Linked DNA regions of Homo sapiens. The protein of the gene in region 1 purifies or fractionates together with the protein of each later gene. This does not show direct contact. Each region holds a gene or a part of one and is shown in the gene's direction. Other genes may lie near its edges.

Region 1 (3,500 bases):
CCTCAAGTGATCCTCCTGCCTCTGCCTCCAAAGCGCTGAGATTACAGGTGTGAGCCACCACTCCCAGCCAGTTGTCTTTAGGAGAATCCAAAGGTTTCCCTGCCAGAGTGGTAATCAGTGCTCCTGGCCCATGCAGAATTGAGTTGTCCAGGCCCGGCCCACAGCAGAGGCTCAGGTCACGGGTGGTCCAAGCTGCAGGAGGGGCAGATGACTGGCTTCCATTTGGGTGTTGGACATGGTTGTATGGAGGAGAGGGCGTGTTTGGTGTAGGCCAAGCTTGTCCAACCCATGGCTGCATGTGGCCCAGGATGGCTTTGAATGCAGCCCAACACAAATTTGTAAACTTTCCTAAAACATTATGAGGTTTTCTTGTGAATTTTTTTTTTTTTTTTGAGACTAAGTCTCGCTCTGTTGCCCAGGCTGGAGTGCAGTGGTGCAATTTCGGCTCACTGCAAGCTCCGCCTCCTGGGTTCATGCCATTCTACTGCCTCAGCCTCCTGCGTAGCTGGGACTACAGGCACCCGCCACCACACCTGGCTAATTTTTTGTATTTTTAGTAGAGACGGGGTTTCACTGGTTAGGCAGGATGGTCTCGATCTGACCTTGTGATCTGCCCGCCTTGGCCTCCCAAAGTGCTGGGATTACAGGCGTGAGCCACCATGCCCACCCGTGAATTTTTTAAAGCTCATCAGCTATCATTAGTGTTAGTGTTAGTGTTAGTGTTAGTGTTAGTGTTAGTGTATTTTATGTGTGGCCCAAGACAATTCTAGTGTGGCCCAGGGAAGCCAAAAGATTGGACACCCCTGGTCTAGGCCATGGGGAATAGCCTTTCACACGGAGGCAAAGAGGACTGAGCCAGAGCTGAGAGGCTGCAGGTCTAGGTCAAAGGGCCAAAACATGCGGCTGGGACTTTGGGGTTCATGTCCTTCCTTTAATTTAGGCAGCTCAGGGATGAGAGGAGGAAGGTCTTTTGGTAAATAAGACGTGAGAGTTTGTGTCTGGGCTACAAATCGGCCGAACTGACAGGATGTCTGCTTGCCGAGAGAGTGGCCAGTGGCTGGTGGGGGCTGAGGAGCTGAGACCTGCCCACTGTCCTTCGCGCTGGACTGGGTTTTACCGCTGGTCAGAGTGGTGGCCCTGAAGTTTGCTCCTGCATGGAGTGCAGACCATTAGCTCTTAAAGCTTCTTTGGGCTTTTCCCTTCATAGGAGTCCCAGCTCTTGATACTACAAGCTTTGGGGTGAAAGTAAAGGTCACAGATGACCACAGACATTTGTCTCGGATTTCCATCTGCACTGCCTGTGGTGTGGAATGTAGACCTGATAACAGAATCTGTTTACTGACTGCCTGCAGGTCAGGCTGACATAAAGTCACTTCTCCTCCTCTTGGGCACACCAGCCAGGCTGGATCAGGCGCTGCTACCGGCAGCTGACAGCACACCTGCTCCCCGTGTTTCCCAGGCCTGCAGTCCTCATTCCCTCTGCTCTGTGGCCCCCTGGCCCCTCTTTCTGTCATCTGCGCAGGCGATCCTTCATCTTGCCTCAAGGCGTTTGCATCTGCTATTCCCTCTCTCTGGAATGCTCTTTCCAAACCCTTCATCCTCTGGTGAATCCCTACACCTTTTCATATCAGCTGGGGCATCACTTCCTCAGGGAAGCCTTTCCTGACAAACTGGCCCAGCATCTCTGTTACCACTGGTGGAGATGGACACCTTTTCCATTTAGCCGTTTATAATTTTCTCTTTGCGGGGTTGATTGATGGTCTGTCTTCCCCAACCACCTAGACTAGGTCCACAAGGGCAGAGACTGTGCCTGTTTTATTCATCCTTGTTTGCCAGGCTGCAGCTGGCACTCAGGTGCTCAACAATCATCTGTTGAGGGAAGAGTAGCATGGGCCACATTATGAGAGGCAGTAGGGAGCTATGGCAGGTTCTTGAGGAGTGACACCTTTAGATGATCTGGCTGCTTACACAGGGAGTGCTTGGAGCTGGGTTCTAGCTCCGAGACAGTCTCTGTGATATGGGCATGAAGTGATCAAGAGGAACCTGGCCTGAGGTTGTTTCAGGAAGAGTAGAAAGGGCTGGGGGTGAAAGGAATATGTGGGGTAGCTGTTTGGACAGGTGAGGGTCTAGGTGGGAGAGGAAGCAGGGGGAAGAAGCAGGCATAGTGTCTGCAACCGTCAGGTTGAGGCCACCTTCAGGGAGCCAGGACAGCAGCAGTGGGAGTGCCTGGTGGGCAGAGCCTGGTGGGCTGTGGCTGTGTCAGTTGAGTCAAAACCCATCACTTTGCAGGAAACCCTCCAAGCCACGTGAGACCCCACATTTAGGTACAGTCAAAAAGAAGACCAGCTCTGGGGCTGGGGCACCATGAGATTCTGTCTGCTGAGCTACTGTGTGCTGTCTTGGGACCAAGATAAATAAAACCGAGCCCCACCCTCCAGGTCAGCTCAACTGCAGCTGGGCACCCAGGCACACAGAAAATTAGGACATAGTGTGACACACTCGTGGAAGTCAGGTGGCACCCACAGCGGTGGGATGAATCACCTCCACTGGGCTGGGAATAAAGGACAGGAGGAAGAGGGCGCCTGTGCCTCCTTTTGTCTTTTCCCTCCTCTGTTCCAACAGGCCTGGAGGAAGCAGCTGGGTGCAGCCTCTCTGACTGGCTGTACACTGCGTGGACCAGTGTCCTGCCCCCACCCTTTGCACAGGCCCTGTCTCCCACCACCATCTTCACAGCTTCCTGGCCCCCTCTCTGCCTTCTCAGAGTCCCACTTCCCTGATTCTTTGTTTTACTTTATTTTTTCTTGAGGTGGAGTCCCGCTTTGTCACCCAGGCTGGAGTGTAATGGCATGATCTTGGCTCACTGCAGCTTCCGCCATCTGGGCTCAAGCAATTCTGCCTCAGCCTCCCAAGTAGCTGGGATTACAGGTGCACACCACCAAGCCTGGCTAATTTTTTTGTATTTTTGTATTTTTAGTAGAGACAGGGTTTCACCATGTTGGCCAGGCTGGTCTCGAACTCCTGGCCTCTAGTGATCCACCCACCTTGGCCCCCCAAAGTGCTGGGATTACAGGTGTGAGCCACCATGCCCTCCCCCCCACTTCCCTGATTCTGGTAACCTGGTCTCCCAGAACAGGTGGCAACGGGACCCCAGCCCTGGTGGTACCCTGACTGCCCTCACCAGTGAGTGGGCCCAGGCAGGCAGCTCTGGGCCCTGGGGAGAGATTTGGGGCACAGGTCTGATGCAGGAGTGAGGGAATGTTGTGGGACCAACAATGGTGCCATTGTCCCTGTGCTTGTTTCTAGATGAGGAAACTGAGAGGGAGAGAGGTAAAACAACTGGTCAGACCCCCATGGAGAACAGGCGTCTGAATCAGACCATGGGCTCCAAAGCCACCATTTTGTCCTATGATTGCCACACCATGGGCTCCGGGAGGGTCGAGGAGCTCTGTCTTTCCTGCTCCCTGCTGGGTTCCCAGCCCCTGAAATCTGGGCTCCTGGCA
Region 2 (3,500 bases), on another chromosome or scaffold:
AGTTGACGTTGAAAATACTGTTGAAATTAAAACATAAGCATTTTAAAGTGGCTATATTTTGGGAATGAACTGCCTTCCATGAATTCACAAATGGTTCCAAATTTTCACTGTCACTTGTACAATTTTGAATGCACAAGTTATCCCCGTTTTAAATTAGGAATTGAGCAATTCACTGGTGGTTGGCAGTGTGTTAAGCACTTGGCTATATACATTCTACCATATAACCTGGCAGAGGTCCATACGAAATTAGGTCTTATTTTTCCAATTTTATAGACAGAGATCATTGAAGCACAGAAAGATTTAAAGATTAAAGAGTTTTCCTAGTTTCACAGAGATAGTTAATGATGCATGGGAACTAAAACCTGTGTCTTTGTATTGTCAGACCTGTTCTTTAATATATAGACAGCTGGGTGTTTCAGTAGTTTTCTTTAAAAGAGCCTTTTCTTTTTTTTTCTTTTTTTTTTTTGAGACAGGGTCTCCGTCTCCGTCACCCAGGCTGGAGTGCAGTGGTACCATCTTGGCTCACTGCAACCTCTGCCTCCTGGGTTCAAGGAGCTGGGATTACAGGCATGCACCACCACGCCCTGCTAATTTTTGTATTTTTAGTAGAGATGGGGTTTCACCATGTTGGCCAGGCTGGTCTCAAACTCCTGAGCTTAAGCAATGCACCCACCTAGGCCTCCCAAAGTGCTGGGATTACAGGTGTGAGCCATCTCGCCCAGCCCTGTTTTGGTTTTAGAAGTTGACTTCTCGCCGGGCACAGTGGCTCACGCCTGTAATCCCAGCTTTTTGGGAGTTGAAACAGGCGGATCACCTGAGGTCAGGAGTTCGAGACCAGCCTGGCCAACATGGCGAAACCCCTTCTCTACTAAAAATTAAAAACTTAGCCAGGACTGGCGGCAGGGGCGCCTTATAATCCCAGCTATAAGGGAGGCTGAGGCATTAGAATCACTTGAACTCGGGAGGCAGAGGTTGCAGTGAGCCAAGATTATGCCACTGCACTTTAGCCTGGGAGACAGAGTAGACACTGTCTGGGGAAAAAAAAAAAATATCTGGTCATGGTTGCATGTGCCTGTAGTCCCAGGTACTTGGGAGGCTGAGGTGGGAGGATCACATGAGCCAGGGAAGTCGAGGCTGCAGTGAGCTATGATTGTGCCACTGCACTCCAGCCTGGGCAACAGTGAGGCCCTGTCTCCAAAAATAAAAAGGTTTTATAAATTGATTTTCTATTGATTTTCTAAGTATTCCATGTCTATAAACCTGTAATTATTAGGCCTCTTCTCAAATCTGATACACAGTCAAATTGTGACTATGCCAGAGGTTCTGCTTTTACTCTGTTGTCCTGAATATGTTTTGAAACTTGTGCACTTGAAGGCAGTCTTGACTTAGTACTTTTGTATCCAATTTCTTCTTCAGAATAAATGTTTATAACCTTATTTTTTATGGGAGTCCAAAAGGTTAGTGCTGGTTTGTGAATTCTGTTTGTTTTTTGACTTAACCTAAATACTTTTCCTCTGCACTTTTCATTTGAATTAATTCATGAACTAAATGTGATGTACTGGATCTTAAGAAACATTGAATTTGGGCTGACTCTCTTGTTTGTGGCGGAGGGTAGGTGAAGAAATAACTCGAGAAGCCAAAAAAGCACGAAAAGTAGGTGGCCTTACTGGTAGCAGTTCTGACGACAGTGGAAGTGAATCTGATGCCTCTGATAATGAAGAAAGTGACTATGAGAGCTCTAAAAACATGAGTTCTGGAGATGATGACGATTTCAACCCATTTTTAGATGAGTCTAATGAGGATGATGAAAATGGTAAGTTCAGTATATTAAATATACACGAAAGCATATAATATTTCAGTATATTTGAAAATGGGATATGAAACCTTTTCTTCTGTACAGTACAAATGATCACACAGATTATAATCTTTGCTTGGTGGAAAGCTCCAGGCTTATCTACCTTCTGGAAGTTTGAGCCTCATATATGTGAGAAGATAACCTCAATTTTGTGCAGTTATTTTTAACTTGAAAACATGGATTTGTACCCCATGGTGTATGGATGAACCAATGTAGGTGGTGATAAGTTATCAGTTAACAATATAAAAAATTTCATCCAGGCGCGGTGGCTCATGCCTGTAATCCCAGCAATTTGGGAGGCTAAGGTGGGTGGATCACCTGAGGCTGGGAGTTCGAGATCAGCCTGACCAACGTGGAAAAACCCCATCTCTACTAAAAATACAAAATTAGCCAGGTGTGGTGGCACATACCTGTAATCCCAGCTACTCAGGAGGCTGAGGCAGGAGAATCGCTTGAACCCAGGAGGTGGAGATTGCAGTAAGCTGAGATTGCGCCATTGCACTCCAGCCTGGGCTACAACAGCGAAACATTGTCTCAAAAAAATAAAATTTCAAAGGTTGTTTCCTTTGAAGATTCTGTACTTGTTTTAACAAATGATTTGACATGTATCTTTCCTTAACACTCAGATCCCTGGTTAATTAGAAAAGACCACAAGAAAAACAAAGAGAAAAAAAAGAAGAAAAGTATAGATCCAGATTCTATTCAAAGTGCCTTATTAGCATCAGGTCTTGGATCAAAACGACCTAGTTTTTCATCTACACCAGTTATCTCACCTGCTCCTAACAGTACACCAGGTATCCATACAGAAACTTCCTTTTTGAAATACTGTTTTAAACAAAAATATTTAAACTTTGTACTAACTTTTAGCAAATGTTCTTTATCTAGCTAACAGTAACACCAACAGTAACAGTAGCCTTATAACAAGTCAGGATGCTGTGGAAAGGGCTCAGCAGATGAAGAAAGACCTGCTTGATAAGCTAGAAAAATTAGCTGAAGACCTCCCCCCTAATACCCTGGATGAACTTATCGATGAACTTGGTGGCCCTGAGAACGTTGCTGAGGTAAATAGGCCTGTATCTCTTGGTGACATTTTTGCCATTTGAACCCCTGTAAAATGAGTTGTATTTTGACTGTCTTCACATAATAATCTAAATTTCTTAGATCATAGAATTCTTGTTCTACTTTAGTTGCCATCCTACATCCAATGAACTGCTGCCTGCAGTATCTGAGTGTCTGTCCCAAGCCACTGGTCCTAGTTACTGCACTTATCACGCATCTTTTGTGATCGTGGCCATGTGTCAAGGTTTTTCCAGGGACTCTGTTGCAGTGTTCTGTATCCTTCAGTGTGTGGTGCAGCACAGCCTGTGCTCTTATCTCCCAAGTGTCTTCAAGGAAAGAGGCACTGAGTCCATCCACCGCAGTCAGATACCTTCATTGTAATGACATTGTTTGGCTTCTCAGATGACTGGCCGCAAGGGACGGGTTGTGAGCAATGATGATGGAAGCATATCTTATGAGTCAAGATCTGAACTTGATGTGCCTGTGGAAATACTAAACATCACAGAAAAACAACGATTTATGGATGGAGATAAGGTATGTTTTACTGAGATGCTTCTCAGTGAAAAGAACAATGCCTGTATATTTA
Region 3 (2,178 bases), on another chromosome or scaffold:
GAGCCCCTATACAAAGATTTTCCAGTTTTAACAAATTTAAGACCCTCTCAAACTAACAGGCTTAGTGATGTAATTATGGTTAGTAGAGGTACACTTGTGAATAAAGAGGGTGGGTGGGTATAGATGTTGCTAACAGCAACACAAAGCTTTTGCATATTGCATACTATTAAACATGCTGTACATACTTTTTGGGTTTATTTGGAAAGGAATGCAAAGATGAAGGTCTGTTTTGTGTACTTTTAAGACTTTGGTTATTTTACTTTTTGGAAAAGAATAAACCAAGAATTGATTGGGCACATCATTTCAAGAAGTCCCCTCTCCTCCACATTTGTTTTGCCAATTTGCACATTAAATGACTCTTCCCTCAAATGTGTACTATGGGGTAAAAGGGGTAGGGTTTAAAGATGTAGACAGTTGGGTTTTTTAAGGGCCCTTTTTCAATAACTGGAACACTCTATAACAAAGGATACTTATTTAAATAGATGACATTGACTATTTTTGTTTTTATTAAAAGGAAGCTTACATGCCTACCAATATTTAATCTTTTATGATTGCCTTTTTATAACTTTTTATATTCTCAGCAGAGTGCTTTACCAATTGAAGTAAAATGTGGCAGGCTGGAGTTATTGAAGCAGAGTGGCAGTCTTCAGTTTGCAGAGTAGGGGTCTGTCTTTTAAACTCTGAGTGCAAACTTCAGAGTTCTTGCCTTGGCTGCAGTTTTTTTCCTTCAAGAATGCAGTACTAACATTTATTTGAGTGGAGTTACTGAACAGTAACATAGCTGTGATTTTTGGTATTTGAAACACTGGTTTTAAATATTTTGACTTGTTGAGGGTATGTTTTATATAGCAAGACATTATATAGCAGTAAAAAATGGTGTTTTATCTTCTATATAATTCCTGTTTTTATTATTAACAAAACAGTCCTAAATAGCAGCCCTCAATTGTGAAAAAATTTACTTTAAACTACATTAGGTTGTGAATGCAGGTTTTATCAGAACTATGTTTTTGTTCAGTTTATCTGTTCATATGGATAAATATTGGTTGGGATGACTTGGTGTCTAATGTGTAGTGCTACACACCTAACTTATGGGGCCAAAATAGCATGTCCTAATGCTTGCTGCTGATTTAAACACATTAAAGGTACTTTGCAGGAAATCCTTGCACCATGGGATTAATATCCAATTGCTGCTTGTACACTCATTCATTACTAAAAGTTTTGAGAAATTTTTTTTTCCAGTAATGAGCTTAAGAAATTTGTGGAAAATAACTCACCTGGCATCTTACATCTGAAATAAGGAATGATATAAGGTTTTTTTTTCTCACAGAAGATGAAGCACACAGGAACCTAATGGGCCAACTGGGATGAGGTGACTATTCTGAGATGACTATTCAGTGGCTAACTTGGGTTAGGAAGAAAATAATTAGGTATTTTCTCCAAATGTTCACTGGTACTCTGCCACTTTATTTCTCTCATCTGTTACACAAAGAACCACCAGGAAAGCAAATCAGTTTGGTTGGTAACTCTGTAATTCCTAACTATCACTGGTTTGGTTCTGGACTAAAACTACATTGACAGATTGAATTTGCCTAATATGATGACTGTTTTTAATATGGATCTGTATGTGTTCTATTCAGCACAAGGAAATAAAATTTTAGTTGAGGATTCAGCACTAAAATCCTTGAGATCACTTCTCATTTCATAAGTGACATGCTTAATGCAAATAATATATGGGAATACTTTGGGTCAAAGTTTTCCTGCATTACCTTGGATGCCAAAGAGGTAGTTTGGTGGCCAAAAAGTATCTTTTTTTAAGAAGCTGTTGTAGCTAGTCTGCATGAACATGAGAAGTTTCCATAAAGGAAAAAAAGCAGTGCTCAGTGGCCATTTGTTACTGTTAATCTGTATCTAAAAGGTACATACTTTCTTCAGAGAGGGAGAAAATGGCATAGCCTCAGCACAATTTAAAAAAAAAAAAAAGCTTTTTAACCAGTAGGAATTTTTGAATAGTTTCAAAATAATATTGATAATACCACACTTCTGGTCAACTTAATAAAACACTCTAAATTTCCTAAAAAGGTAGAAAAGCTATAAAATATCTAAACCAAATATTATTGGTTATACTCGGGTGGATCTTTTATTATGAACTTTAAATGTAGGGTTCTGATTTTTGGCTTC
Region 4 (3,500 bases), on another chromosome or scaffold:
GCTTCCTGGGGGTGGAGGAAGGGCAGCAGCAACAGAGGCTTTCCTGCAGTGAGGATGGAGGGGACCTTTTTTTTTTTAAGATGGAGTCTTGGGCCGGATGCTGTGGCTCACACCTGTAATCCCAGCACTTTGGGAGGCCGAGGCGGGTGGATTACGAGGTCAGGAGTTCGAGACCAGCCTGGCCAACATAGTGAAACCCCATCTCTACTAAAAATACAAAAAATTAGCCAGGTGTGGTGGCGTGCACCTGTAGTCCCAGCTACTTGGGAGACTGAGGCAGGAGAATCATTTGAACCCGGGAGGTGTAGGTTGCAGTGATCCGAGATCGAGCCATTGCACTCCAGCCCAGGAGACAGTGCAAGACTCTGTCTCAAAAAAATAAATAAATAAAATAAAATAAAAAATAAATAAATAAAGATGGAGTCTTGCTCTGTCGCCCAGGCTGGAGTGCAGTGGCACGATCTCGGCTCACTGCAACCTCCGCCTCCCAGGTTCAAGTGATTCTCCTGCGTCAGCCTCTTGAGTAACTGGGATTACAGGTGCATGACACCACGCCCAGCTAATTTTTGTATTTTTAGTAGAGACGGGGTTTCATCACGTTAGCCAGGCTGGTCTTGAACCCCTGACTTCAAGTGATCTACCCGCCTTGACCTCCAAAAGTGCTGGGATCACAGGCATGAGCCACTGCACCCAGCCAGAAGGGGGCATTAATATGCAGGCGCCGTATAGGGCAACACCTGTGTGCACCTCTTACAAATCTTAATGCTGTGTATATGAGGGGGTTCCTTCGTGTCCTCCGGGAATGTTTGAGGTTGCCTGTATGTGTTATGTGTGTGCATATCTTTAAGGTCAGATATGCATAGACAGATTGACACCTCTGTTTTGAATGTATTCCCATGAGCTCATCCCATTAATTCACTATCGCAACAAATATTTACTGAGCGTGAGCCATGCCATTCCACAGCCACCATTCTAGTACTAAGATACAATGAGGAACAAAAAATCCAGGCTTTCCTGAGCTCACATTGGGGTCGGGGCATGGTGGGAAGACACAGGCATCAATGTAATAAACAGAAACCACGACAGGGCTAAGTGTTCTGGAGGAGAGGCACATGGTGTACTGAGGCCCCTGAGGTTGACCCAGGTGCACCTTTGAGCTTTGCCTGCGTGGTTTGGGTTTGTGGGCTCACCTGCATGTGTCCATGCATGCCCCGTCTGCGTGCCCGTGCATGGCTGCATCACCCCATACACACGTGCACTGCCCCTGGGCTTGCCCACATGTGCTGCTCCCCAGGGCGCCAGGCTATCAGCCTACAAGGCATTGTGGGTCTGGGCCCAGCCTGCCACGCCCTACAGAAGCCTGAGCCTGCCTTCCCAGGAGGCCCAGGACTCTCACCCAGGGCCCTTCCCTGCAGCTGGAGCAGGCTCTGCGGCTGGAGCCTGGGGAGCTGGAGACGCAGGAGCCCAGGGGGCTGGTACGGCAGAGCGTGGAGTTGCGGAGGCAGCTGCAGGAGGAGCAGGCCTCCTACCGGCGCAAGCTGCAGGCCTACCAGGAGGGCCAGCAGCGGCAGGCCCAGCTTGTGCAGCGGCTGCAGGGCAAGGTCAGGACCACCCACTCCTGCTCCTGTCCTCCCACCTGTTCACTTTGCCCCGCCCCAACCCCTGGGGCTCACCATCAGCTCCCCATCCCCAGATTCTCCAGTACAAGAAGAGGTGCTCGGAGCTGGAGCAGCAGCTGCTGGAGAGATCCGGAGAGCTGGAGCAGCAGCGGCTGAGGGTGGGTGCCAGTGTGGGGCAGGGGCAGGCCCTGCCCTCCACCTGCCCAACCTGATGCTTTAACCTCTCTCCCACCCAGGACACAGAGCACAGCCAAGACCTGGAAAGCGCCCTCATCCGGCTGGAGGAGGAGCAGCAGAGGTGAGGGCGCAGCAGGGAGGGCCAGGGCTGGCAGGATGGCCCCCTGCGCGAGCGCCTACTGATCCCCTGTGCCCCATTCAGGAGTGCCAGCCTGGCCCAGGTGAATGCCATGCTCCGAGAACAGCTGGACCAGGCAGGCTCGGCCAACCAGGCTCTGAGTGAGGACATACGAAAGGTGACCAATGACTGGACACGCTGCCGCAAGGAGCTGGAGCACCGGGAGGCGGCGTGGAGGCGCGAGGAGGAGGTGGGCATGGGGGTGCAGGGAGGCCAGCCTGACCCAAGAGGAAGGGGCACTGCAGAGGAGGGAGGACTCAGAAGCCTGGAGAGGGAGAGGGAGCACTGTCCAAGGGAGCCTGTTAGCAGAAGTAAATAGCCGTCATCACAATAGCTGGTCTTTATCAGTGTGTAGCATGTACCACGTGCACGGTGTGCGTTGACCTTTATTCCTCATGATAACTGCATGTGGTAGGTGCTATCATTCTCCTCATTTTAAAGAGAGGTTAAGGCCGGTCGCAGTGGCTCACGCCTGTAATCCCAGCACTTTGGGAGGCTGAGAGATCGTGCCACTGCACTCCATCCTGGGCAACAAAGCAAGACTCTGTCTCCAAATAAGTAAATAAATAAAGAGAGTTTAAGTAACCTGCCCACAGTCATGCAACTGGCAGCTGGGATGCAAAGCTAGGTCCCTTGCATTTTTGCCCTTCGTTGCTGCCTCTTGCAGCCAAAAGAGGACTTGAAACCCAGGTCCCTGTGCAGGAGGGAGCCATGAGGCTTGGGAGGCTGAGCATGGCCGCTGCAACACAGCTCTGTGCACAGACCCACAGGAAGACCCAATCCCTGAACGACGGTGCCTCCCAGGATGGTCGGAGATGAGGGAAGCAGTGGGAGGGAGTAAACCCGCTCTCACACCAACCCTTCCCTCGGCATGTCTTCCCTCCAGTCCTTCAACGCCTACTTCAGCAACGAGCACAGTCGCCTGCTCCTCCTCTGGAGGCAGGTGGTGGGGTTCCGGCGGCTGGTCAGCGAGGTGAAGATGTTCACTGAGAGGTGAGGCCTGGCCGGGGACGGGGCAGCAGCTGAGAGCCAGCCCTGCTCTTTATGTCCAACTGAACTCAGTTGAATTTCAGTTCAACTCAACGCACTTACTGTGCACAAGGGCCGGTGAGGACACAGAGGCAACTTGTAATAACCATTACCACAGTCGTGGCAGTCAGCATTTATTAGATGTTTACTCTGGGCTAGGCTCATTGTATATTTCATTTCAACTAATATTCATAGCTTCCCTGTGAGGTAGGAACTGTGTTCATTCACATATTACAGATGAGGACATTGTGGCGCAGAGAGGTTGAGTGATCTTCCTGAGGTCACACAGTAGTACATAAGTGGCTGAGTCAGAGTTTGAAGTTCCTGATTTTTTTTTTTTCTCAGACGGAGTCTTGCTCTGTCACCAGGCTGGAGTGAGGTGGCACGATCTTGGATCACTGCAACCTTCACCTCCTGGGTTCAAGCAATTCTCCTGCCTCAGCCTCCTGAGTTGCTGGGATAACAGGCACATGCCGCCACACCCAGCTAATTTTTTT
Region 5 (3,500 bases), on another chromosome or scaffold:
TATGTTGTATTTGTGATATAGAGACTCTAAGATTTATCCCCAAGACTTTTAAGAAATAGTTTAGAATAATTTTATATTGGGTGGGTAGAAGATGTAAGATAGGGTATGGGATTGGATCTCTTTTAAGTACTCTTGAACTACTATTTTTGTAGCACACATGTAAACCAACTGATTAAAAATTTTTTATACTGATTGTAGTTTTTCATTGAGTTAGAAGTGATATAACAAAACTTAATTTTATTTTTTTGAGATAGGGTCTTGCTCTGTCATCAGGCTGGAGTGCAGTGGCGTGATCATAGTCCACTGACCCCTCACCTGCTGGGTTCAAGCAATCCTCCTGAATAGCTGGAATGACAGGCATGTGCCACCATGCCCGCTGATTTTTAAATTTTTTGTAGAGACAGGGTCTCGCTCTGTTGCCCAGGCTGGTCTTGAACTCCTGGCCTCAAGTGATCCTCCTGCCTCAGCCTCCCAGAGTGCTGGGATTACAAGTGTGAGCCCTCGTGCCTGGCCCAAACTAATACTGTTAATGTGAACAATTCATTGGCATTTAGTACATTCAAAATGAAAGGCAACTACCACCTTTATCATCTAATTTAAAACATTGTCATCATCCCAAAAGGAAACTACTCATTAAGCAGTTGCTCCTCATTCCCCCTTCTGCCAGCCCTGACAGCAACCAATCCGCAGTCTGTTTCTATGGATTTAACTGTTCTGGATATTTTGTGTAAGTGGAATCATACAGTATGTGACCTCTGTTTAGCTTTTTAAATTTAGCATAACATTTTCGAGATTCATCCACATGGTATCTTGTATCAGTACTCCGTTCCTTTTTGTAGCCGAATACTCCATTTTATGTATATATGGTGATTTGTTTATGCATTCATCCATTGAAGGACAGTTGGGCTGTTTCTACCTTTTGGCTATTGTGAATAGTGCTGCTTACTATGAACATGGCATGTATATGTATTTGTTTGAGTAGCTGTTTCAATTCTTTTGGGTATCTGTATACCTAGGAATTGTGTTGCTCAGTCATTTAACTTTTTGGGAACTTGACAAACTGTTTTCCACAGTGATTGAACCATTTTAAATTTCCATCTTCAGTGTAGAAGGTTTTCCATTTCTCCACATCCTTATTGACACTTAGGTTCCATTTTTTAAAACATTATAGCTATCCTAGTATATATGAAGTGCTACTTCATTGTGGTTTTGATTTGCATTTCCTTAATGACTAGTGATGTTGAGTATCTTTTCATCTGCTTCTTGGCCATTTGTATATTTTGTTTGGATAAATGTCTGTTCAAGTCCTTTGCCCATTTTTAAGTTGGGTTGGTTGTCTTTATAGAGTTCTTTATATAGTTTGGGTAGTAGATCCTTATCAGGTATAATTTGTAACTTTTATTTTACAGGTTGTCTTTTTACTTTCTTGTTAATATACTTAGATGTATTAAACATTTTTAATTTTGGAGATACACTCATTTTTTTCTTTTGTTGCTTCTGCTTTTGGTGTCCTATCTAAGAATCCAGTGCTAAGTCTAAGTCATGAAGATTTATCCCTGTTTTCTTCTGAGAGTTTTCTGGCTTTAGCTTTTATATTTAGGCTGTTGATGCATTTTCAGTTAATATTTGTATATGGTCTAAGGTCCAGCTTCATTGTTTTGCCTGTGTACATCCAGTTGTCTTTTCCTTTGTCTTCTCTAGACTTTTGTTTACTTTTTCTAGGAATGCCTTCTGCTTCAACACCTTCTGTTCACATTCTATCCATTATTCAGACAAATTGCACTCCTACATATGGAGCTTTTGCTTATAGATAGGCACCTTCCTCTAATACCAGGGGCCAGGGTTTTCTATGTCTTAGAAACCCTAAGCATTTAAATATATGTTTTGCTCTTTTTTTCCAACAGTTATAAAAGGCCTTTTGGTTCTTCTAAAAAGTTTTAAGATAATTGAATTTTTCATGGCTAGACTAAGCATTTGTCTAGTCTCCTAGTCTTTTAGATTTGTCTAAAATTGTTATTCTAGCTTTGAAGAAACAGTCTTTTTATTTGCCTTTAAAGAATTTGTAATAACTCGAATGGTTTTTGGATGGTTCGTGTAAAAATACTGTAGGACAGGCTACATTGAGAGGCTTAAAAAGGAGATACAAATAAATTTCTTCTAATGAATGTCATCTTTGTTAGGTATCTGAACTTAGGACTGGAGCTGCAGAAGGACTAGCCAAGCTGATGTTCTCTGGGCTTTTGGTCAGCAGCAGGATTCTTTCTCGTCTTATTTTGTTATGGTACAATCCTGTGACTGAAGAGGATGTTCAACTTCGACATTGCCTAGGCGTGTTCTTCCCCGTGTTTGCTTATGCAAGCAGGTATTGAGTCATACTGATAAATCAAAAATCTGACTTGACATCAAATTCAAGTCCCCCATGAATTATATCTATAATGATATTTTGTTGTTGATACTTTTTCTGTCTTTAGTAGATAAATGATGAAATGACAAGAACGATACAGATTTTATCTATCTGAATTTTTGGCTCTTTCCTAGATGAAAATGCACTTAATGAGTGAATTTCCTACATAGTAGTTTTGAATTTCATACTTTTTCTCTCATCAAATAATGTTCTGCCAACATACTTTGAATTTGTTTCTCAATAGGACTAATCAGGAATGCTTTGAAGAAGCTTTTCTTCCAACCCTGCAAACACTGGCCAATGCCCCTGCATCTTCTCCTTTAGCTGAAATTGATATCACAAATGTTGCTGAGTTACTTGTAGATTTGACAAGACCAAGTGGATTAAATCCTCAGGCCAAGACTTCCCAAGATTATCAGGTGAGTGACTGTGGTAACTGCATGCAGATCACTGTTTTGGTAAAATAATCTCTCTCAAAGATCCCTTGAAATACTGAGGAACTGCATTTTGGTCTTTAGACTTCTGTCTCAAGCATATACCACAAAGCACGAAAGAAACATGACCTTGGGAAATGTGGAGAAATCATATGAAAACAGAAGTAATCAATGCTAACATTTTTGCTACTGAAAAGAAATTACTAAAAATCCACCACCCACACCATGCCCACCTAGTACTGACTGTTAATCTGAAGTAATAACCTATGTTATCTAGGACTCACAGAGTCTTCAAATGTTGGCTTACCTGCTATGCTTCTGGCACAAGAAAGGAGAATTCAAAGACTAGAACTCACCTCAAGCTTTTTTGGCTTTTAATTCAAAGAAGATAAATCAATTGCACACTGACTCACAGACTGAACTTAAGCTGGGTTGTTTTAATCCTTTAATGGCATTTGGTCAAACTTGTTACCATTTTTGAAATTTAATGTATTAGTGATTTCAGATGCTAACAGATTAAGTTGAAAGTATTACTCTATTTTATTTGATATTTAGTGATAAGCTACTCTGTTCAATTCATATGTTGTATATTATTGGAAAGATAAGATTACAAAGGATATTAGGCAAAATTAGGTAAGGGTCAGTAATAGAGCTATTAAGCA
Region 6 (3,435 bases), on another chromosome or scaffold:
GTTTACTGTTTTCAAAATATTTGAGATTTCCTTTCTGAATTCAAGGGGTATACAGATGTTCACAAAGATTTTTTACTGTGATATAAATAAAAACAGCGACACATCCTAAATGTGCACCTGTGCCGTGGCTGAGCCGCTGCAGTGAGGGCTAGTGTGCAACACCGATGCTGTGCTGGACGCGTGCCCAGCCGGGTCCCCTGACAGGAGGCAGCCGGGGCCGGTGCGTGTGTTTGCATGTTGCAGTCATGGGGCGGGGCCGGCAGAGGCCTGTGTGATTGTGGCGTCCCTGGAAAAGATGCTTGGCAGGCCCCTCCAGCTGTAGCCCAGCCTGCAGACGGGGCGTTCTGTGGGTCCTTCCCCGTGCATATGCGTGTGATCTCACCCATCCCGTGTGGGTGCGCAGGAGGGGCCGAGGGAGGAGGGTGCTGGAGGGCGGAAGTTACCTCTGACTGGAGGAGATACCCGGCCCGTGTTACCAGCACTGGTGTGCTCGTTCTAAAACTGGAAAAAATTTGTTCTTAATTTTAACAACAGTCATACATCACAACAGTGAACTTAAATTCAGCTGAAGATTGTGGGGGGCTCTTGTTTTTCAGGGTAAATATTCAGGGTAAGTGTGAAATGGTGTGTGTGAAAAAATTGTTTTTGTTCCTTCTAGGTCGGATGTTTATCTTTTATGGTAATAAGACCTCCACGCAGTTCCTAAACTTTACCCCAACACTAATCTGTTCAGACGACCTTCAGCCTAATATCCTTGGCTTCATTGCCCCATGCCCGCAGACAGCATAATGTGGGGCTTAGAGGAGGCTTTTGAGGAAGTTTTTTGGTTTTCTTATTTTGTTAAAATAGCGAGATAATTCCAGATGCTATATGAAAATCAGGCAGTCGTAATCTGCCTATGGTGCTGGGCAGGAGAAGGAAAACAGGCAGTCTTCCATATTGGAGAGCCAGCTTTTGATCATGCACCTAAAAATACCGTGTACATGCCTCCTCCCCTTCCATCTGGCCAGTGTGAGTCCCTTTCCTTTTCACCTGCTCTTACTCTCCTGTGACGTGATCTTTAAACCCCTCCTCTCCGAAGCCTCACAGAGCTGCTGCTTGCAGAGTGTGGGAGGCGCCAGTGGGGACTGGAGCGCGGTGCGCACCCCAGCCGAGCTTGTGTGTGCTTCTGGCAGAGCTTTTAGACTGAAGATTTTCCCTTCGTAATGCCAGAAGCGTTCCTAGAACTTCCCCAGCTAAAACAGGGAGACGCTAACGTCTCTACCTCTAAGGATAGGCCCGCCAAATAGAGTTAGCGTGAAGACCCCAGCTTGACCAGAGATGGTGACACCTGGGGATTTATGGTCAGCGACCTGAGTGAAGCAACATCCTCCTTGCCACTGGCTGGTCTGTTCATTTTAACATGAACATGTTTTAATGCAGACTGTTCAAGCTGTTTCAAAACAGTCATTAAAAATACACATGCAGGAGCACCTGTATTAAAGACTTTGTTTGGAATCTGGAGTGGAAGCTCTGACTCCTACTGCGCCCTTCTTTAGGGGTCTCTCCCTCGGGGTCCACTTGGCTCGAGGCGGCAGCGAGCCCAGCAGCTGAGTGGCCGGCGGCACACGACCCAGAGGGAAGGAGAGGCCTGCACCCCGCTGCCTCCTGGACCCAGCTTTGCTGCTGTCACTGTTTCTTCAGGAGAGGCTGTAGGCAAACCCTTGTTTTCCAGCATGAAAACAACCCTGGTCCCAGCAGGGCAGGCTCTTTTCTGTGTCTCGCTGTTTCAGGAGCCTGCTATTCCTGGGATTCTTAAAGTTTTCCTGCCCTACTAAGCACCAGTTTCTGCTAACGGTGACAAAAATTGTGTGTGTAAGACCCAGAGCCGAGGCTCAGAGTGAAAACAGACAAGTAGTATATAATCTAAGTGACTTTTTAAAATGGAGGAGCCATTCTGGAAGCGTGAGAAGCAGACAGTGTTTTGAGGATTGTCTGGGTGGAAGGGCAGGGCCGGGTGGTGTGGCTGCCCTCGACCCGTAGCTGGTGGTCCTAGAGTGTGGTGAGTGTGCTCGCCTCCACGGGTCCTGCTGGGGCTCTAGCCCGGCCCGTTTCCGCTTCTGCCACTGGGACTTGCTCAGCTGGATTCCTTAACGCACGCACACCTGAACCTGCAGACCAAGCCCGTGGACCCGACCGTGGAGGGGGGCGCGCAGGTGCAGCAGGTGGTCAACATAGAGTGCGTGTCCGACTTCACGGAGGCGCCAGTCCTCAACATTCAGTTCAGGTAAGAGCCGCCTGTGCGCCCCGGGCCAAGGGGTGTGTGGGCGCCTGAGCTGTGTGCCTGGGCTCCATGACTGTGCCTCCGTGTCCTTCCTGAGGGGACCCGGGGCGTGCGGGTGCTCACGGTGCATGGATGCGGCCTGAGCTATTGCTGCCCCCGGCTCTGCAGAGCGCAGGAAACAAGGGGAGGCGGAGCCCTGGGCTCCGGGACGGCAGGTGGCAGCTCCCACATGGGGCCTTGCTAGGATCTTTCTGGGCACCATGGGGCCCACCTCATGGGGTGGCAGACAGCCAGGGCCCCCGCGCCACCTGCCCGGCTTGGTACCAGACGACAGCTGTGGGGTGCAGGCAGCTGGTTTCCTTCGGCCCCCTGGCCTGGGGGGCGCGTTTTTTGCTCAGTTGAGCTCAGATCGTACCACTTTGCTTATTTTTTAAAAGCATAGGATTTTCCTGTTGCGACTGTTCATTACTCTCACTTTTCAGTGACTACAAATAGCGTGGATACAGTCAGCCCGTCCCCTGCTGGGTGTCTGCAAGGTTAGGAATGTTGAGAAAAGCACACTTTCTAACATTAAAAAGACAGAGAACTTAAGATTGTATACTGTAGAATTCGGGGACATAGACATGCAAGTTTTTGTTTCATTCTTTGTGCAAATGCCTTTGCCTTTTTAAAGAAAAAACATCACACTATTTGCACAGACTTGGAGTTCTGGGAAACAGATGAATGGGGAGAAGTGAGGCACAGGGACGTCCTGCCTGAGTATGCGGCCCTGGCCTGTCCTCCTGTCTGTGGGTGACACTGGACACTGAGCCACACACGATCCGTGGGGACTGAAGGCTCGGCCCCCCGACCCGCTCTGGTGGGTGGCAGTAGATCGGGACGCTTCTCACTCCAGGCTCTTTCCCGGTCCCTGGGGCTCTCAGAGGAGTAGCTGACTGTCTCTTTCTGCTGCTGCTGCTGCTGGCAGGTATGGGGGCACCTTCCAGAACGTGTCTGTGCAGCTGCCCATCACTCTCAACAAATTCTTCCAGCCGACAGAAATGGCTTCTCAGGATTTCTTTCAACGTTGGAAGCAGTTGAGCAAGTGAGAAACCTGTTTCCTGTAGGGGTCAGGGGTGGGGACGGGGCTCATTTGAAAAGGTGGGTTTTGGTCTCTGGCCTGGCTGAGAACA
Region 7 (3,500 bases), on another chromosome or scaffold:
ACACCTCATTTCCATGTATTCTTATTTCTGTTCTGCTTCTTAAATCCCTGACTAATTTGTTAGTTTGCAAATTCCCTACAGAAATGGAATCATTGGGTTTGAGACTGAATTTCTTGATTTAACATTTTCCAATCTTAATTATACATGACAGTAGTAAAAGAAGAGTTAGTTGTTGGGTTTTTTTGTTAGTTAGCAGTTAAACCTCACAATCATGGTGGAAGGCAAGGAGGAGCAAGTCACTGATGTCTTACGTGGATGGCATCAGGCAAAGAGAGCTTGTGCAGAGGAACTCCTCTTTTTAAAACCATCAGATCTCGTGAGACTTACTATCAGAGAACAGCAGGGGAAAGACTTGTCCCCATGCTTCAATTAACTCCCACCAGGTGCCTCCCACAACATGTGGAAATTCAAGTCGAGATTTGGGTGGGGACACAGCCAAACCATATCAGAAGGGAGGAGTAACTTGCCCCAAGTTACAGAACTGCCAAACATGGGCCTGTCTGAGCCTAGTTGTTGGACTTTAACCAATGTTCTGAATTATCATTCAGGTTCTTTGTACTGCCTGTGTCCTTAATCTAGTTGACTCGAATGTACCTGCAGGTTTCAGAGCAGCGATGGAGAAATTAAATACTTGCAATTAGCAGAGGAACTGATTCGTCCTGAGAGAAACACATTGGTTGTGAGTTTTGTGGACCTGGAACAATTTAACCAGCAACTTTCCACCACCATTCAAGAGGAGTTCTATAGGTATGGGCATATTAATCTTCTTTACTTTGAATAGGGGTTGAAATCCGGGAAGCCAGCTCTTCTTGGACTGTAAGTGTTCACTTGTGTAGCAGAAGGTCAGCTTTCACAGTTATTTCCCACTGAGAAGAGGCGCTTTGATACTGCCAGTGGTCGTTTTAGTACTGCTCTGAACTTCATGTAGGCCTTTGTAGAGCCGAACGTTTTTTTGTTGTTGTGTTTTGTTTGTTTGTTTGTTTGTTTGTTTTTTGAGACGGAGTCTTGCTCTGTCACACCTAGGCCGAAATGCAGTGGCGCGATCTTGGCTCACTGCAACCTCTGCCTCCCGGGTTCAAGCGATTCTTCTGCGTCAGCCTCCCGAATAGCTGGGATTACAGGCGCCCACCATCACGCCCGGCTAATTATTTACATTTTTTAATAGAGACGGGGTGTCACCATGTTGGTCAGGCTGGTCTCGAACTCCTGATCTCAGGTGATCCGCCCGCCTCGGCCTCCCAAAATGCTGGGATTACAGGCGTGAGCCACCGTGCCCGGCCAGAGCTGAACTTTTTTTTTCAAATACAAATGTTGAAAATCTTTGCTTTCTATATAGTTTTCCCAAGAGGAAAACTGTACTTACTTACTTTTGTGTCATTCCATTGATCCTTTTTCCCCACAGGAATAGGTGTTTGTGTGGGTCCTTTTCTTGTACTGGGGATATCTTTACAGCATTGACGTTGTTGTACTTCTTGTTCCCTTAAAGTTTAATTTTGTTTTCGCTTATAAAAGTAATAGGTATATATTGTAGAAAATGGAGAAGAGTAAGGAGAATTAAATTGCTTATACACTTGTAATCCACCACCGTCATTAGCAGATCTGCTACAACAGAGTTCCAGGAGCCTTCCAAGTCTGCAAGTGCAGAGTTTTGTAAGGATCTTCTGTCACATTTTGATGTCTTTGTGTGTATGCTGTGTATGAAATTACTCAAATTCATATAAAATTTCTTAAACTCATACTAATAGCTCCAATTGTGGTTTTTTGGTAGAAATACTATGGTTAGACATTATATTTAATAGAAGGCTTTTATTTTGTTTTGACTTGTTATATATAGCAAGAAACATCTTTGCACACAAGACTTTGTATTAGGATTAAATAAATGTGACAGTCTATAGAAATAGAATCAGGTTAAAATAAATTGTGGACAGTTGTGAAAGATAAATGAAAACCCAGGGATAAGGAGGCACAGTCTCGTTCATTTCTTAGTAGATTAGGAGATGGAGGATTTGTCTGTGTTTCTGGTCATAGCTGATGATCAAGAATAATTGGAGGGGGTAAGTAAGCAACAGGATTTATTGTGAAAGCATGCAGCAGTAGAAGTTATAGCACTGACAAATAAGGGAGAGGTAGACAATCAAGCCTGGTGGTAGAAGCAGCTGTGCCATGCCTCATGCACAAGCCAGGCAGCAGTTCTCTTTCCTGAGAGTAGCGCCTTTTTTAGAGGGTTTCAGACCCCACTTCTTAAACAAACTAAGCTGGAGTAGGTATTAGAAACATATCAAAAGGACATGCATACTTCACTCTCACCAGTCAAATGGAGCATTTTTGCCAATTTGTTCTCACATTAGTGCACAAATACTTCTCCTGTCCTCATCCATTTCTTATCAAACCAGCCAGATGTGGTGGCTCACACCTGTAATCCTAACACTTTGGGAGGCTGAGGTGGATAGATCACTTGAGCCCAGGAGTTTGAGACCAGCCTGGACAACATGGTGAAATCCCATTTCTACAAAAAAAACCCCACAAAAATTAGCTGGGCATGGTGGTGCATGCCTGTAGTGCCAGCTACTCAGCAAGCTGAGATGGGAGGATCACCTGAGCCTAGGTAGATTGAGGCTGCAGTGAGCTGTGATCGTGCCACTGCACTCCAGTCTGGGTGACAGAGTGAGACCTTGTCTCAGAATGAAACCAAAGAAATTGACTGACTTGACACATGACTTACTAAGTCATAAACAGCCCACAGAAAATTCACAGTATTGAGCATAATATTGACAAGATGATTGTTCAGCTAGTCATCTTGGACAGAGGAATGGCCAACAGTGTGGGTGCTGTATGATTATTTATGTGCTATATGATAATCAGGTATGGTATGACATTTTATATTTAGTGTTCCGGTGGGATAGGAGAGAACTGAAAGAGGGTCCTAAACCTAGAGTAGATAATAGAAGTGTCCTACACAGTTAAGTTCTAAGGTTTAGTTGTAACCAGATGAAATTCCTTAATCTCGGCTGTTGGTAGGTATGTAAAGGGAAGGAGGCCTTGGTAAACCTCTAAGGTATCAGCTGACTTTTTTGTTTTTCAGAGTTTACCCTTACCTGTGTCGGGCCTTGAAAACATTCGTCAAAGACCGTAAAGAGATCCCTCTTGCCAAGGATTTTTATGTTGCATTCCAAGACCTGCCTACCAGACACAAGTAAGAAACCCTTCTCTGGAAAAAAAGGAATTCACCAAATGGTATAAGTACCACTTAGCTGACAGTCAGAAAACTTGAGAGGTTGCCTTGATCTGCTATTAGCTGGCTATTTAACATTATACAAATCACTTTTACCTCCCTGAGCCTCAGTTTCCTTGTCTGTGAAGTCTTTTGGCTTAGGTTTTCTACCTAAATCATGCAAAAAATAGGTTTGTTGCTGTAAAATTACTTTTTCATAATTGATAATCACAATAATTATAAAACAAGTACTTATAAAATTGATGCTGTAAAATACCAGGAGGAAAAA

The links.
Region 2: the proteins of EPS15L1 (region 1) and SBNO1 purify together in Homo sapiens (affinity purification with mass spectrometry, with the first as the bait; one large-scale study listed by BioGRID). This does not show direct contact.
Region 3: the proteins of EPS15L1 (region 1) and IVNS1ABP purify together in Homo sapiens (affinity purification with mass spectrometry, with the first as the bait; one large-scale study listed by BioGRID). This does not show direct contact.
Region 4: the proteins of EPS15L1 (region 1) and CROCC purify together in Homo sapiens (affinity purification with mass spectrometry; one large-scale study listed by BioGRID and IntAct). This does not show direct contact.
Region 5: the proteins of EPS15L1 (region 1) and NCAPG fractionate together in Homo sapiens (co-fractionation; one large-scale study listed by BioGRID). This does not show direct contact.
Region 6: the proteins of EPS15L1 (region 1) and AP2A2 purify together in Homo sapiens (affinity purification with mass spectrometry; one large-scale study listed by BioGRID and IntAct). This does not show direct contact.
Region 7: the proteins of EPS15L1 (region 1) and MCM6 purify together in Homo sapiens (affinity purification with mass spectrometry, with the first as the bait; one large-scale study listed by BioGRID). This does not show direct contact.

Annotation. Positions count from the first base shown.
Region 1 is NC_000019.10:16,461,971-16,465,470, reverse strand, and holds part of EPS15L1 (epidermal growth factor receptor substrate 15-like 1), read left to right. Parts: intron 1-3,500.
Region 2 is NC_000012.12:123,319,848-123,323,347, reverse strand, and holds part of SBNO1 (protein strawberry notch homolog 1), read left to right. Parts: intron 1-1,615; coding exon 1,616-1,813; intron 1,814-2,481; coding exon 2,482-2,649; intron 2,650-2,740; coding exon 2,741-2,916; intron 2,917-3,316; coding exon 3,317-3,448; intron 3,449-3,500. UniProt on the Homo sapiens protein: Plays a crucial role in the regulation of neural stem cells (NSCs) proliferation. Enhances the phosphorylation of GSK3B through the PI3K-Akt signaling pathway, thereby upregulating the Wnt/beta-catenin signaling pathway and promoting the proliferation of NSCs.
Region 3 is NC_000001.11:185,295,888-185,298,065, reverse strand, and holds the end of IVNS1ABP (influenza virus NS1A-binding protein), read left to right. Parts: coding exon 1-31; 3' UTR 32-1,678; downstream 1,679-2,178. UniProt on the Homo sapiens protein: Involved in many cell functions, including pre-mRNA splicing, the aryl hydrocarbon receptor (AHR) pathway, F-actin organization and protein ubiquitination.
Region 4 is NC_000001.11:16,928,431-16,931,930, forward strand, and holds part of CROCC (rootletin), read left to right. Parts: intron 1-1,415; coding exon 1,416-1,601; intron 1,602-1,693; coding exon 1,694-1,777; intron 1,778-1,855; coding exon 1,856-1,917; intron 1,918-1,998; coding exon 1,999-2,164; intron 2,165-2,860; coding exon 2,861-2,967; intron 2,968-3,500. UniProt on the Homo sapiens protein: Major structural component of the ciliary rootlet, a cytoskeletal-like structure in ciliated cells which originates from the basal body at the proximal end of a cilium and extends proximally toward the cell nucleus.
Region 5 is NC_000004.12:17,834,979-17,838,478, forward strand, and holds part of NCAPG (condensin complex subunit 3), read left to right. Parts: intron 1-2,180; coding exon 2,181-2,362; intron 2,363-2,648; coding exon 2,649-2,823; intron 2,824-3,500. UniProt on the Homo sapiens protein: Regulatory subunit of the condensin complex, a complex required for conversion of interphase chromatin into mitotic-like condense chromosomes.
Region 6 is NC_000011.10:1,005,870-1,009,304, forward strand, and holds part of AP2A2 (AP-2 complex subunit alpha-2), read left to right. Parts: intron 1-658; coding exon 659-748; intron 749-2,142; coding exon 2,143-2,266; intron 2,267-3,230; coding exon 3,231-3,347; intron 3,348-3,435. UniProt on the Homo sapiens protein: Component of the adaptor protein complex 2 (AP-2). Adaptor protein complexes function in protein transport via transport vesicles in different membrane traffic pathways.
Region 7 is NC_000002.12:135,869,944-135,873,443, reverse strand, and holds part of MCM6 (DNA replication licensing factor MCM6), read left to right. Parts: intron 1-600; coding exon 601-747; intron 748-3,082; coding exon 3,083-3,193; intron 3,194-3,500. UniProt on the Homo sapiens protein: Acts as a component of the MCM2-7 complex (MCM complex) which is the replicative helicase essential for 'once per cell cycle' DNA replication initiation and elongation in eukaryotic cells.